3 separate regions of the Homo sapiens genome follow, and all the other regions are linked to region 3. Evidence: fine-mapped expression QTL. A gene starts in region 3. Each other region holds a variant in brackets. All regions are shown on one strand. Distances are from middle to middle. Region 1 overlaps IL16 (interleukin 16). Region 2 overlaps TMC3 (transmembrane channel like 3). Region 3 holds the start of STARD5 (StAR related lipid transfer domain containing 5).

Region 1 (5,227 bases), 38 kb after region 3:
CCACCTCACACACATTAGGACATTAGGATGGCTACTATAAACAAAAAGAAAAGAGGCTGGGCATGGTAGCTCATGCTTCTAATCCCAGCACTCTGGGAGGCTGAGGCAGGCAGATCACTTGAGGTCAGGAGTTCGAGACCAGGCTGACCAACATGGTGAAAGCCCATCGCTACTAAAAATACAAAAATTAGCCTGTGCAGTGGTACACACCTATAATCCCTGCTACTAGGGAGGCTGAGGTGGGAGAATCACTTGAACCCAGTGCAGTGAGCCAAGATCGTGCCACTGCGCTCGAGCCTGGGTGACAGAGTGAGACTCAGTCTCAAAAAAAGAAAAGAAAATAACAAAGTATTGGCAAGGATATGGAGAAATCGGGACCCTTGGGCTCTGTTGATAAGAATGTAAAATGGTGTAGCCACTGTGGAAAATAGTTTGAAGGCTCCTCAAAAACTTAAAAATAGAATTACCATATGACCCAGCAATTCCACTTCTGGGTATATACCCTAAAAGAAGGGAAGTCAGTATCTCAGAGGAATCTGTACTCCACGTTCATTGTAGCATTATTCACAATAGTCAAAAGGTGGAAACAACCCAAGTACCCAAAAACAGATGATAAACAGCATGTGATACACACACACGCACACACACACACACACACATACACATACTAGAAGATTATTCGACCTTAAAAAGGAAGGAAATTCTGGCCCGTGCTACAACATAAATGAACCTTGAGGACATTACGCGAAGTCAAATAAGGCAGACACAAAAGGACCCATTTTATATGATTCCACTTCGATGAACGTAGAGTAGTCAAAATCACAGAGACAGAAAGTAAAATGGTGGTTCCCAGGATTTGCTGGTAGGAGAACATAGGGACTTGTTTAACTGGTAGAGTTTAAATTCTGAAAGATGGAAAGAGTTCTGGAGACGGATGGTGGCAATGGTTGCACAACAATGAGAATGTCCTTAATGCCACTGAACTGTACACTTAAAAAATGGTTAAGATGGTAAATTTTATGTTATGTGTATTTTACCACAATAAACAACAATAAATAAATCATTTAAAGTCTGCGGCACAATGCCTGGCAGATGGTAAACTCTTACTAGAGGAGAGTTACCATCCACAACAGTCCTGTAAGGTAAAGACCACTCCCCTATGTCAGAGTTGAGGAACCAGAGGCTCTTGGAGGTTAGATGAGTTGCCCAAATTAACCATAAGCAAGCAGCAGACTGGACACATGCCAGGCATTCTGCTGCTGGGCCTGGCTCTCTTCTCTCTGCCCTATGCCTGTGCCCCTGGATCTCCACGGCCTAGGGTGTCTTCGTCTTTCTGCTGCTCTAAACCTTACCTGTCCTTTCTGGCCTGGCTCCCTTATCTGAGCAGCTGGAACTCCAGCTCCCTCACTCTCAAGGCCCTCACCTCTGTGGCCTCTCTGTGTGTGTCCCATGTCTCTGGGAGAATGCACATTCCTTAAGCCCAGGGCTACAGCATTTGCCCACAACCTGACGCCCTACTCCACTGATTTTCTGCCGTAGTCCTAAAAGCAGCAGGAGGAAATGACAAATTAATTGGGACCTCTTTCTTTTCTTGTATTGTCCAGAGATTTAGGCCAATTATTTGTTTGCCTTAATTAAGAAGTTTGCTTGTCTCTGATTGTGTTTAGCTCCAGTGTGCAATCCACAGAATGGGGCTGGGTTTGAATTCCACCACACCATTATATATTGATTTCCCTCATTACTCCACTCTGTCCAAGTGTCACTGGGAGTTTGGGAGTCAGTGAGTTCAAAGCACAGGCTTTGCTGGATTTAAATCTTAGCTTCTTTACTTAGTAGCTTCACCATTGGGAAACTTATTTGTCCTTTCTAAGCCTCAGTTTCCTCATCTGTGAGTTGGGGGGGAAATATCACACTGATTTCAGGAGGCTGCACAACAACTAAATGCAGTTGTGTGGGTCACATCTTTGAAAAACATGCCTGGTGCATATTAAGATTAAATAATTCTTTGTGGTGATTATTCCAGGTTCCCCAGAGCTCTCACCAACAGCAGGGATTCAACCCCCAAGTCTAGCTCCAGCCTGGGTTCCTGTTATAGTTGCTATCAGCCCTAAGTCTAACTTGCCTACTGGGCATCTTTACCTGGACACCCCGTGGTACCTCCACCTCACTATGTCCCACAGTAAGATCATGCTCTTCTCTCCCTCCCAAGCCTGCTACCTTTTCCTCTTCTCTCTTCTGGTGGAAGACCATTGCTCAGTCTTCCAATCTAAAAATATTCGAGATATCTTCGGTTCCTCCCTCTCTTACCCCAGAGCCACTTGCCCAGCAGCTCTTGTTGAGTCTTCCCAAGCATTGCCTCATGTTGCCTGATATGGTTTGTCTGTGTCCCTACCCAAATCTTATCTTGAGTTTTAGCTCCCATAATTCCCACATGTTGTGGGAGGGACCTGGTGGGAGATAATTGAGTCATAGGGGCAGTTTCCCCCATTCTGTTCTCATGA[T/C]AGTGAATAAGTCTCACAAGATCTGACGATTTTATAAGGGGTTTCCCCTTTCACTTGGCTCTTATTCTCTCTTGTCTGCCATCATGTAAGACATGCCTTTCACCTTCTGCTGTGATTGTGAGGCCTCCCCAGCCACATGGAACTGTAAGTCTATTAAATCTCTTTTTCTTTATAAACTACCCAGTCTCAGGTATGTGTCTATCAACAGCGGGAGAACAGACTAATACATTGCCCCTTCTCTTTTCTCTTCTCATGGCTGCTGTGTAGTTCAGGCTCTCACCATCAGCTTCCTTCCTCTTACAAACCCCACACTCCACCCACTCTATCCTGTCTTCTACAGTGCAATCAAAGGTTTAAAAATTAAAATATGAACATGCTCCTTCTACAGCTACAGACCTCCCATAGCTCCTCACTATGTAGAATAAAATGCAAACTCTTTAGTATCCTGTTGAAAGCCCTCTGCAGTGTAACCCCAATGCCCTGCCAACATCTGTTCTCAGTCACTCTTACCTAGTACCCTACATTCCAGCCCCACAGAACCCACTCCTCTCCTTCCATGTCAGGTCCCTTTTTGACTCTGTGACATTGAATTTTGTGTTCCCACCTCCTGGAATGATCTTCCTTATATTCTCTGCCTGGAGAAAACTAACCTCTGGTATTTTTTTACTTTATCAACCATTCCCTGCTATATTCCTGTATTCTCATAGGACTTACCATCTCTGTTTTGCAATTATTTGTATGTCAGGCTCTTTATTGATACTGTGAGCTTCTGCAGGGCAGGACTGTGTGCTATGAACTTGCCTCTGTATCTTCAGTACCTACCTCCAGACATTCCCACAGTGGGTACCTACTAGACGCATAAATGAATAAATTTCTTGGTCTACTAGCTGGGACCCTGGGTCTCTACTTTCCTGCCCCAGAGCTTATAACTCAGCTGTAAGAGCTTCCCTAAGTTAATGTCAATTGCCTCTGATATCTAGGAGTTTGTTAGTGGACCTCTGCTGCAGACAATTCTTACTACAGAAACTTGGAAGGGATTCTTGGGAATTCAGGTACAAACCCAGCCAGCAACATCTCTGTTTTCATCTATTTCTTGTTCCAATTTTGGTACTGAACGAGTGAGCCTGAGAAGAAGAGGATAACCCAGTGGGTGTTACCTGTGGGTCTGGATGTCGGCTAACAATGATGGGGACTGGACCGGGATCACAGTGACTCAGGATCGTGTAGACTTCATTGAGCGTCAGGCAGTGCACAGGGGAATCACTGATTTCCACAATCTCGTCCCCACACCTGTGCAAGCATCAATAAGAAGCCATCAGTAAGTGAATCAATGAGACATTTGAACAGTCACTGCCCCAGGGGCCCACTCCTGGCTGGGCTGTTTGATGAGATATAAAAATCACATGAATAAGTAGACCCCACTAGCCACCAGACCAAAACTCAGAACAGGGCAGACCAAAGTAGCATATCCCATACCCCCTTACCGTACAACCACAAAGCAGCAGACATTTCCTATTTACAGTGGGTCAACATTAACAAAAGTTCATCTGTAACTTTCCTCCTTCTTTTCACATTTAACTATGCCCATTAAAGACTGAGGGTGTGGGTTAGCCAATTCAACTAAATAACAATTAACCAGGATTTAATCCACCACATCCTCTCCTTGGGCCTCTGTGTTCCCATAAGTAGACTAGTTAGAAGGAAGGATTGGATCTAACATAGCACACACAGGATGTTGAATATCGGACCTAACATCCTACATGTGCTAAAAGGCAGAGAAAAAATAACTCAACAGGAGAGCAGTTGAGATTCTTGCAAAAAGAAATAAGGAGAAAAGGTGATGGCATTCATTCTAGTTGTGAGGTGGGAAGGGAGTTAATAGCAACCTAAACCTTAAAAAAAAAAAAGGTAGGAAACACGGGGTCACATAGATACATGGAAGATTTGTATAATCCAGTCCCCTTCCCGACCTAGATAGGGAAATTGAGTTGCAGAGGTTGAATAGATTTCCCTGATCTAGGTCTGCTCAGGAATTGACAAACTTTTTCTGCAAAGGGCCAGAGAGTAAATATTTTTGGTGTTGCATGCTTTGCCATACTGTCTTTATCGAAACTATTCAACTCTGCTGTTATATTAATAGCATGACAGCTGTGGCCATAGACGAGGCATAAACAAATGAGCATGGCTTTGTTCCAATATAATTTTATTAAAACAACAACAACAACAAAACCAAAACAGTGATAGGCCCCAGTTTGCAGACCCCTGGCCTAGTTGGTCATCAGCAGGTCCAGGATTGGAACTCTAGCCTCCTGAGGCTGATTTCCCTGTGTCCCCTGCTGTGTTCTGTGACTTCCTTCTGCTGAGTTCATCCTCCTTCACCCTTGCTTCCTTTTTACTGCTGTAACTGAAGGCCATGGTTGTATAGCACCAGATGCTAAGGAAAGCAGAAGCTTCCAGAACAATCCCTACTCCACTGCAGATCTAAGAAGGAGGTACTCTCTGTCCGAGGGTACTAGGACCAAGACAACCACATGGAACCTGCAGTATGTGCCACAAACCAGCAGAGCAGCTCAGCAAATCACCTGCCACCCTCCCGCAGATAACAGCAAATCCCTTTCTAATTCAGAAGCTCCAGAGAGACAGCATCATAAGCAGGGATGGCTTTTCCATACACTGCAATTGTAGGAAACCCTTTAAAAGGATGGCAAAACTCTCCTGATTTAGGA
Region 2 (5,227 bases), 29 kb before region 3:
CAGCTAAATGGTGCACTATTTTGAGAAAAAAAATCTACTTAGATAATTTAAATTACAGCCATACTATCTCCCAATCCCTCTTCCCAACCGCCAATATTTTTTCAATTGATTAGATTATTGATATCTAATTCATTTATATCAATTGAATCCTACAGAATAAAGTCTTAGACAATGAAGGTATGAGCTAAATTACTGGGTAAATTATTTCTAATGATTTATAATTAATGATGATGCTAAGCTTTTATTGCTGTATGTATTTTTCTTAAAGGAAGCTATATTGGAAGAACAGGAGAAAAAGAAAAGCAAAAACCTGTAGGTATTATTACTCCCCATGCTGAATTCATTGATAAGTTTTATTTTTAGTTTGGTACAAAAACTACCAGATCATCTATATCTTATTTTCATAATTGTCAGGCAGCTCTTCTTTCTTCCTTTCTCATAATGTGATCTGAGGGAACTGAATGATTTTTTCCTTAGCAATATTTAGGACGACTTCCTCCTTCCATAGATCCTGTAACAAGGGTCACAGGGTCTGAAATTGACCAGTTTCTTATTTCTTACTCTTTTACTTAGATAATAAAAGAGGTATTTTGAGCACCAACTTATGCTGTTAAGACTAGTTTTATTTAGAAACTAGTCATAAGACACAAATATTATCCAGTTGGTGTTCACAAGCCTTTCAAGATGATTTCCTAGGTTCAAGATTCTTCTCAAGATCTTGAGAGCTATGCTGGTGAGGGTGAAGCCCTTCAAACAGAGAACTAATGAAAGGGAAAGCCATTCCCAGGGAAGGGCAATGGCCCTGACCTCATGAAGACAGGTAGGTCTGTTCATCCCACATCCTTACTGGTTATTTAGCCCTCATGATTAGTTTCCACAGTGCAGAAAGCCCATTCGGAGGACTTGTACAAAAGGACATGGGGAATTAAGGAAACACACCCAGCCTCTGGAATAATGAGGGAGCTTAGGGAGTGGGGGAGGAGTTGGAAAGGGCTGTCCATAGGGAGTCAGAAGACATGGATTCTAGTCCTCTCTGTCATTAATGTCGATAACCTGGGAAATGCTCCTGAACTTCATGAACCTGAAGTTCCTCACCTATAAAAGTATGGGATTCTGCCATCTGATTCTTTTTCTGTAGCTCTCCTCCACCAGAGTTGATAATAATAATAACAACATACTGTGCCATGTTGTTATTTTTACCAAGCAAAGTGACATTTATCTTCTCATTTGGGAATGTTTCCTCATTGTGCAAATCAAGGGCCAAAACATGTGTAGAGGGAAGAGTTGTGATCTGCCCAAGGTCCCCAGTGGGTAGAAATTTCATGGAGAAGATAGTATACCTTGGGTGCCCCTTCAAATCCTCTTGGCCATACTTTTCTCCAGCCCTTGCTACTGGGCAGGACTGTGCAGGCCACCACCAGCTGCACACATGTACCCCTTGCTCGTACCCGCTGTTTGGTGCCCCAGGGATCTTCTGAGGCTGCTGCATAGGGAACCCACAAGATCCCAGTCAACACACATGCACGTGCAACCAAGAGGCTGGGTGCAATGCTGGGAGTGAATGCTCATGGAGCTACCCTGAACCGCTGGGAATAGAAGAAATGCTTTCCTATTTCACACTGGGCAAACAGTTCTGTCAGGCATTTCATAAGCCCCTCAGAAGGCCCTGCATTTGCCTCTAGCTGCTGCCAACCCCATTGCATATCCTTGTACTGATGGCCCCTCTCTCCTGCTCCACTCCAGGACCTCCACTCCTGCTTTCTGGGATCAACCTCCACTCCTGCTTTCTGAGATCACTTCCCAAATAAACTATCTGCAAAAAGGACTGGGATTCCAGGCCTTAGCCAGGCTAAGACAAGCTCCAAAGTTGGCAGAAGAAGGTGCCTTCAAAATAGGCCAATTGAAGTCAGACAGGGAGTTGTCCTCCAGTGTTAGAAAAAAATGGATATGTTTCAGTTAAAACCAGAAACATGTATGTAAGTACTAGAATCATTACTGATTCACACACCTGCCCTCACTATCAGAGGCATATGAGAAGTGAGACCAAATTAGGAAAGAGATGAGCCCTGTGTCTCCCATCTCATGGGCAATTAGTTGCTCCTTTATTTACTTATTCATCTAGCAAATATTTATGAAGCATCCATATATGCTAAGCCTGTTTTAAGAGCTGAAGATAACAGCATTGAAAAAGGCTAAAAAGCTTAGAGCTTACTTCTAAAGAGAAAAGACAATTAAGAAACTACCAAAGGAATAGTCAGATGTTGCATAGTGACAGGATCACATTCCAAGAAATGTGTCTTTACACAATGTTGTCCTTGTGTGAACATCATAGCATGTACTTACACAGAGCTAGATGGTATAGCCTACTACACACCTAGGCTATATAGTATAGCCAATTGCTCCTAGGCTACAAACCTGAACAGCATGCTACTTGTATTAAATACCGTAGGCAATTGTAACACAATGGTATTTGTGTATCTAAACATATCTAGACATAGAAAGGTACAATAAAAATGTGGTATAAAAGATTAAAAAATGGTACACCTGTATAGGGAACTTACCATGAATTAGCTTACAGGACTGGAAGTTGCTCTGAGTGAGTCAATGAATGAGTGATTAGTGAATGTGAAGGCCCAGGACACAACTGCATACTAGCGTAGACTTTATAAACACTGTACATTTAGGCCTCACTATATTTATTTCTTAAAGTTTCTTTAATAATAAATTAATCTTAGTTTACTGTCACTTGTTTATGAACTTTTAAATTTTAAAAAACTGTTTGACTCTTGTAATACTTAAAACACAATCACATTGTACAGCTGTACAAAAA[CAG/G]TTTTTCTTTATATCCTTATTCTATAAGCTTTATTTTTAATTTTTTTAACTTTTTACACTTTTTTTGTTAAAAACTAAGACCAGGCCGGATGTGGTGGCACACACCTGTAATCCCAGCACTTTGGGAGGCCGAGGCGGGCAGATCACCTGAGGTCAGGAGTTTTGAGACAAGCCTGATCAACATGGGAAAACCCAGTCTCTACTAAAAATACAAAAATTAGCCAGGTGTGGTGGCAAATGCCTGTAAATCCCAGCTACTCAGGAGGCTGAGGCAGGAGAATCGCTTGAACCCAGGAGGCAGAGGTCGCAGTGAGCCGAGATTGTGCTATTGCACTCCAGCCTGGGCAACAAGAGCAAAATGCCATCTCAAACAAACAAACAAACAAAAAACAAACAAACAAAAGACTAACACACACATTAGCCTAGGCCTGCACGGAGTCAGGATAATCAATATCACTGCCTTCCACCTCCACATCTTGTCCCACTGGAAGGTCTTCGGGGCCATAACACGCACGGAGGTGTCATCTCTTATGGTAACAGTGCCTTACCCTGGATGCCTCCTGAAGGACCTGCCTGAGGCTGTTTTACAGTTAACATTTTGTTTTAAATAAGTAGAAGTATACCCTAAAATAATGATTTAAAAAATATAGTAAATACATAAGCCAGTAACAGTCATTTAATTCATTATCAAATATGTACTGTACATAATTGTATGTACTATACTTTTATACAACTGGCAGTGCAGTAGGCTTGTTTACACCAGCATCACCACAAATGTGAGTGCAATGCATCATGCTACAATGTCCTAGGCCATAGGAATTTTTCAGCTCCAATATAATCTTATGGAACCACTGTCATATATGCAGTCCGTCATTGACCAAAATGCCATTATGCGGCACATGACTGTACAATGTCAGATTCATTATATGGGATGACAGGCAGAATCATGTGTCCTCCCTTCCTCTCTTCCTCCCTGCCTTCCTTCCTCCCTCCCTCTGCTGAACACATTTACTTGAATTCCTATATCTTTAATGTGCATACCACAAGACTCCAATTTCAAGTAGTGAAGCTAGAACTGAACCCCAAATACTCTGACTCTAAAACAAGAGGCGTTTATTTGTTCGTCTGTTTGTTTCAAACCCCACTGATGCAGGCTGGTTGAATTTATGACTGGTCGTTGATCTCTTAGAAAATGAGGAATTCTAGGGTGCTGGGTGGGGTGGGCTGGAAGTGCATTGATGCTTCAGGGCAGAGAATCCTCTTGGCAATGGATGTGTTCCAGTCCCCAAGTAGTGTTGTCTTTGCATCGTGGTGCTGTGAGCAGGACCCTGTGTACCGTTCTCATGCCTGTTTCTCTCCCCAGGGCAGTGACCATCTGCCTGAGGATTATTGCCAACATCCTGGTGCTTCTCTCACTGGCTGGGAGCATTTATCTCATCTACTTTGTGGTGGACCGGTCCCAGAAGCTGGAGCAGTCGAAGAAGGAGCTGACACTTTGGGAAAAGAATGAGGTACCCACTGCCATTACCTGCAGCACCCTAGAAAAGAGACATAGCTGGGCACAGTGGCTGATGCCTGTAATCCCAGCACTTTGGGAGGCTGGGGCAGGTGGATCACTTGAGGTCAGGAGTTCCAGCCCAGCCTGGCCAACATGATGAAACCCCATCTCTACCAAAAACACAAAAATTAGCTGGGCGTCGTGGTGCACACCTGTAGTTCCAGCTACTCAGGAGGCTGAGGCAGGAGAATCCTTGAACCCAGGCGACGGAGGCTAGAGTGAGCCAAGATCACGCCACTGCACTCCAGTGTGAGCAACAGCGCGAGACTCTGTCTCAAAAAAAAAAAAAAAAAAAAAAGAGAGAGAGAGAGACACAGAAAAGTAGCCTGCCTCTCTGTTCCTTATGTAAGTTAGGTGGGAATATCTCTAGGAAAAAACTTTAGTCCTCTTGTCCTAGAGCATTGACTATAAGGACTTTGAGCCAGAGGGGCAGCACTAAGGCTTGGCAATTTTATTCATCTCCTTTGGGAAAGAGTTTGATTCAAAAACACCTTCAAGCATTTACACCGTTCTCTACCTTTGAGCCTCACCGACTGTGTTTTGCCTTTTGCACATCTGTTTCTTCACATCCATGTTCCACATTCCTGCAGACTGGAATTAACAACTACACTTATTCCATAGTATGGATTAAAGTTGACCAGGTGTCATTCGTGAATATTTAGGTAGTTTCTGAATATCTAAATGACAAATAATGCTTCCAGAACCAGCTCTACACAAATGGTTTGTTTTTTAAACAATCTTCTCCCCCCCAACCCCCGTTGTGTGAATATTCCCATAAATAGAAAATCACCAAGTGAACGGTTATGAACAATTTTGGAATTCTAAATATTCATTTTA
Region 3 (5,227 bases):
TTGTTTTCTTTTATCTTTGCACGTTTCACACTTAACACTACATATGCTCATAGGATGTAGTAGACAGCAAAGCATATGAGTAAACATTTGGCCTTTGGAAATAGAAATCGTATGTTTGCCACAGCTCTGCCACTTCCCAGCTATGTGGCCTTGGATACCCTACATGATCTTCACTTTCTTAACTTGCAAAATGGGAGTAGTAGTCTCTATCTCATGGTGCTGCGGTATTGTTAAGTTAAATGGCCCAAAACAGGTAAAGTGCTTAGGATAGTGGCTAGCAAGAAGTAAGTGCTGAGTAACGATTAGCTATTGCTGAGTAAGCAATAAACATACCGACGTGCTTACATTTGTAGATTCACATAGCACCTGCCCAAGCTAACTTAGTAAATATGCATGCAATTCTTCATCAGTGTCTAAGTGGAAAGCAGATACTCCACTCTATTCAGGGCCTTGTAAGACTGGAGCATGTGGACACTTGGGCCCATCCCCTCTATAGTCTGTCTAGTGGTGGTGTTGAGTTAGAAGCTACTGGGCTACCTGCTCCCATATACACCTATTAATTGTATTCACCTGGGACTTTGATGAAGTCTGGTGGACAACTGGGTGACTCAGAGCCCTCTCAGGACCTTGTGGGAAGGGCTCTGATCAGTGGAATCTCCAGAGCTCAGTCATTCCTCCATCCCCTTCAGCTCCAAACTGCAGCCTCAGACAGACTACAAAATAGATTTCTGTCCCAGGCCCCTGGCAAACACTGTGTGGGCAGCTCTCACCTTCCCTCTGTTCCAATCATCTGCTCACTCTGCCCTGTGCCGGCCTCCGGTGATAAAATAAATGAGTGTTCTGCTTGAAGGCTGCCCTGACCTCACCAATCTCCTACTTCCAGTTTGTCACAGGCCTCGGGGACAGTTTGCTTCTCCAAATATTTTGTATATCCAGACGTTCCCATTTCCTAGGAGCAAAATAGTGCTACTATAGTCCTGCAGGGGGTCTACTCCATCCCCACTTTCCACCATCTGGGCTAGGTTATTTTGATGGCTACATAATATTCCACTAAGTGGATGTTCTATAACTTTGGTTAATATACTGGTAAATAGGTTACTTCCAGTTGCAAGATTAATTTTATGCATCTTTGTGCAGGAAGAGTCACTGGATCAAAGAACAAGTAGAGTAAAATTTTAATATATGTTGTTATTCTGTTCCCAGGAGGTTGCATACATTTGTACTCTCATCCGCTGTGTAACAACTATTTCTCCATACCCTCACCAACACAGGGTATAAACAAACTTCATGTTTGTCCATCAATAGGTTTTAAGAAAAGCCTCTCCTTGCTTTAATTTTTAATTCCCTAACAATGAGTGAGGTTCTGCATCTTTTTATAGCTTTGTTAGCCATGTCAATTAATTTTTCCACAAAGTATCTTTCCATGTCTAATGCATTCTTTTTGTTTATGGGGTTGTCTGAAAATTGCTTAATGATTTGTATGAGCCCTTGGTTCGATAAGAAAACTTATGTGTTAAAGTGTGTCCCGATTTTTTTCTCATATTATCTAACTTTTTATGAAATTTTGATGTGCTTAATTTTTTAATGGGATTAATTTACTAGTCTTTTCTTTTATGGGTCCTAAGAGTATTTACATGCGTTACTTCCCTCTCTCTTCACAAGGGCATAGGGAACATTTATTTGTTTGTTTGTTTATTTTTATTACTTTTTGAGACAGGATCTTGCTCTGCAGCCCAGGCTGGAGTGCAGTGGCGCGATCACGGTTCACTGCTGCCTCTGCCTCCCGGGTTGAAGCGATCCTCCCACCTCAGCCCCCCCAAGTAGCTGGGATTACAGCCCCGCGCCACCATGCCCGGCTAATTTTTGAATTTTTAGTAGAGACGGAGTCTCGCCATGCTGCTCAGGCTGGTCTCGAACTCCTAGGTTCAAGTGATCTCCTGCCTCAGCCTCCCAAAGTGCTGGGATTACAGGCGTGAGCCACCGGACCCCGCCAGGAACATTTATGATGTATCCCATTTCACCTTGGAGTAAACTGAAGCTCAAAGAATAATGAGTGAAACTGGGTTTAGATCTTGAGCTCCCTAATTCCCCATCCAGGTCTTCTTCACAGCCTGGCTGCCCTTCACATCTTCCAAAAAGGTCTTTCAAGTTGTCAATTTGTTTACACTACTCTTCCAAACATTTATATCGAAAGTTTAAAGGAAACAATAAGTACATAAAAAAGAAAGATAAGAAATAGACCTCAGTATTAACCTTTTCAAATATTTAGTTGGTGATAGCGCAGAAGAGGGGAAACCGAGGCTGTCCTTGCCATTCACGCTGTGAAGATGCGACCCTGGCTCACTCCCCGCAGCTCCAGGGCAGCTGGAAGCAGAGAACTCCCATATCTCTAATAAAGCCGGGCCTCTCGCAGATGTCAGCGCATTGCATTGACTCCTGGACACCTGCACTAAAGGCCCTTCAGGCACCTCCAACTAAATATGCCCAGAACTGAACTCACCCTATCTCTTCTCCATCTCAGGTAAGCTGCCAGGTGGCCAAGGCTGGGAGTCATGATGCTTTCTCCTTCTGAACATCCACAATCGGGGGCAGAGACCTTCACCTTCCATCTCCTAAACACTCTACGATGGGTCCTCTTCTCTTCACCCCCACTCCCCGCACCCCTGCCACACACCTCTCCCACCATTGCACGCGCCCAGTCTCCACGCGCATTTCCTCTCCCACCCTGCAGCAGCCGCCCTAGCATATTACCTCTAATGCAAATCGCACCACTGTCCCGCAGGCTGAAAGCCTCGGTGCACTCAGGACAAGAGTCCACGCTTCTTAAACAAACGGTCGACGTTGTCCGCGACCTGGCCCGGCCCAACGGGTCAGACCGTCATTGGCCATCTCACAGTCCCGGCGCTCCAGAGCCCCTCCCACAGCGGGACATGAAGGAGGCGGATACGGCTGGACCTTACCCGGCCCGCCCAAGGCGTCCGGGACCCGCCCAGGCGCTGACGCTAACTGGAGAGCCTGGCCCCGCGGTCTCCTTGTCCTGCCAATCTCCGGGAGGCGGGATCCGTCTGAGGGCCTGGACCAATTCGGGAGCGGGGGCGCGGAAAGAGGCGGGGCTACGAGCTCCTCCCAGAGCTCCAGCCTCCAGGCACCCGGGATCCAGCGCCGCCGCTCATAACACCCGCGACCCCGCAGCTAAGCGCAGCTCCCGACGCAATGGACCCGGCGCTGGCAGCCCAGATGAGCGAGGCTGTGGCCGAGAAGATGCTCCAGTACCGGCGGGACACAGCAGGCTGGAAGATTTGCCGGGAAGGCGTGAGTGAGGAGCTGGGCGGGAAGGGGTCGCGGAGACGGCTTCGTGGAGCCCGGGTCCCCAGAAGCCCCCAAGCGCCTCCTCTCCCCGTTGTTTTCTGCTCCCCAATCCCCTGGACCCGATTGAGAGGGATTCCAATGGGGATTGTTTTCTTCTTTAAAAAAAAGATTGGGCCTGTTATGCTCACAATGACTTCAGGTGGTAAGTATCTGTTCCTTTCACTCAGTGACTTGCCCAAGGTCACCTGGCTGTTGAATGCTGTTTAGGACTGGATGTTTCTGTGACAGTGGTAAAAGTAAATAAATTGCATTTAAGGGGTAAGCAGGTGTTTAAAAACAAAACAAAATGAAAGAATGTGGTCGCAGCTAAGGAGGTTTTTACATGTTGTTTAAATCCAGTAAAGTCTGATCCAGCATCTGATGCATACTAAGGTTTTCTTCTGTGTTCATTACAGCATGAACCCCTCTCTTTGTCGTTGCCAGAGGGTAGCATGGGAGTAGTTTTGCTTGACCCTTCTGACTTTTCATTACAGCATGAACCCCTCTCTTTGTCGTTGCCAGAGGGTAACATGGGAGTAGTTTTGCTTGACCCTTCTGACTTTTCATTACAGCATGAACCCCTCTCTTTGTCGTTGCCAGAGGGTAGCATGGGAGTAGTTTTGCTTGACCCTTCTGACTTTTCATTACAGCATGAACCCCTCTCTTTGTCGTTGCCAGAGGGTAGCATGGGAGTAGTTTTGCTTGACCCTTCTGACTTTTCATTAAGTAGCCCTGGGTTGCTCAAGGAAACAGAATGCCTGGTGGCTTTTAAGATAATTTTAAAAACCACCCACGGCTCTTGGAGTCAGCCAGTTAAGATCTTTTTCTTCATCACATTCTGCTGTGGGGACAGCTTTGCCCAAGACTAGTCCCAGCTTTTCCACGTATGGGTTGCACAGCCTTGGAGAGTCGTATCTCTTGAGGCCTCTTACCCCTCTTCTGTAGAACAGGGGATTAAGCCAGGTGACCAGAGCCCTTCTAGCTCTAAAATTCTGTGGTTCTGTGCCTTTTGACAGAATGGAGTTTCAGTTTCCTGGAGGCCATCTGTGGAGTTTCCAGGGAACCTGTAAGTGCATGCCTCGTTCAAAGATTACCAGAGGTGCCGCACCCTTCCTGGTATCTTTATGGGCCTGCCTCCTAAAATATTCAAATCAACCCTATAACCTGTGATCACTTGTCCTCCAGAAAAGCCTTACTGTTTTTAATGAAATCATTTCCAGCAAACTGTATTCTTGTGAAAGCTTACTGTCCATTTCTGCAGGCCTGAAGGGAGGCGGGGCTAGTGACTTTCAGCCCCTTCTCTGCAAGTCTGTCCTAAAGAGTAGTGACAGACATGGCATGGTCCACCTTCTAGTCCTTAGATACAATCTCAAGATAACAAGTTTGATTGATGCGTTGGGGTCAAATTCCTTTTCGTGCTCCAGGTACCGAGGAGAAGGCATTGTATATGGGACACTAGAGGAGGTGTGGGACTGTGTGAAGCCAGCTGTTGGAGGCCTACGAGTGAAGTGGGATGAGAATGTGACCGGTTTTGAAATTATCCAAAGCATCACTGACGTAAGTCTTTCCAAGCATGTTATCTCTAGATAGTGTCTGGGCCAGGCTATAGTAACCCCCTCCCATTTCTTCTGGAAGGGGTCCGTGATACCTTTTGTTAAGGGGGTGTGTCCTGCAAGCACAGGCTGCCCACTGCTTGCAGCATTGGAGGCCTGCCTCAGCCCAGTTTCCCGGTGGGAAACCTCATGACTCAGAGAGGGAGAGAAGCCCCAAACAGAGTCTCTGCGGGGAGCATACCTGTTCCTTGTGTGGGGCTGCTGCACTAGGCAACACAGGATCCTCAGCCCCTGGCACCCACTTCCCTGAAGCCTGGGCCAGTAGC

What was found. PIP is the estimated chance that this variant, and not a neighbour inherited with it, causes the effect. A credible set is the group of variants that fine-mapping cannot tell apart.
Region 1: its variant is the best candidate, but not a certain one, in a credible set for the expression of STARD5 in monocytes (Quach 2016, PIP 0.52).
Region 2: its variant is the best candidate, but not a certain one, in a credible set for the expression of STARD5 in skin (TwinsUK, PIP 0.82).

Annotation. Positions count from the first base shown.
Region 1 is chr15:81,284,262-81,289,488 of GRCh38, reverse strand. IL16 (interleukin 16) reads right to left here. Exons shown (of 19, transcript NM_172217.5): 10 at 3,659-3,791. Among named protein-coding and RNA genes, the nearest start is that of STARD5, 37 kb to the left of the region's middle. RefSeq lists an enhancer at 2,632-2,711. The variant T/C (reference allele first, on the strand shown) is at 2,502.
Region 2 is chr15:81,350,810-81,356,036 of GRCh38, reverse strand. TMC3 (transmembrane channel like 3) reads left to right here. Exons shown (of 22, transcript NM_001080532.3): 9 at 269-312; 10 at 4,196-4,343. The region is part of intron 3 of TMC3-AS1 (TMC3 antisense RNA 1); the gene reads right to left. Among named protein-coding and RNA genes, the nearest start is that of TMC3, 21 kb to the left of the region's middle. The variant CAG/G (reference allele first, on the strand shown) is at 2,831.
Region 3 is chr15:81,322,086-81,327,312 of GRCh38, reverse strand. STARD5 (StAR related lipid transfer domain containing 5) reads left to right here and starts at 3,172. Exons shown (of 6, transcript NM_181900.3): 1 at 3,172-3,312; 2 at 4,365-4,414; 3 at 4,773-4,905. The coding sequence starts at 3,214. TMC3-AS1 (TMC3 antisense RNA 1) reads right to left here and starts at 2,980. Exons shown (of 7, transcript NR_120365.1): 1 at 2,752-2,980. RefSeq lists a silencer at 2,631-2,680.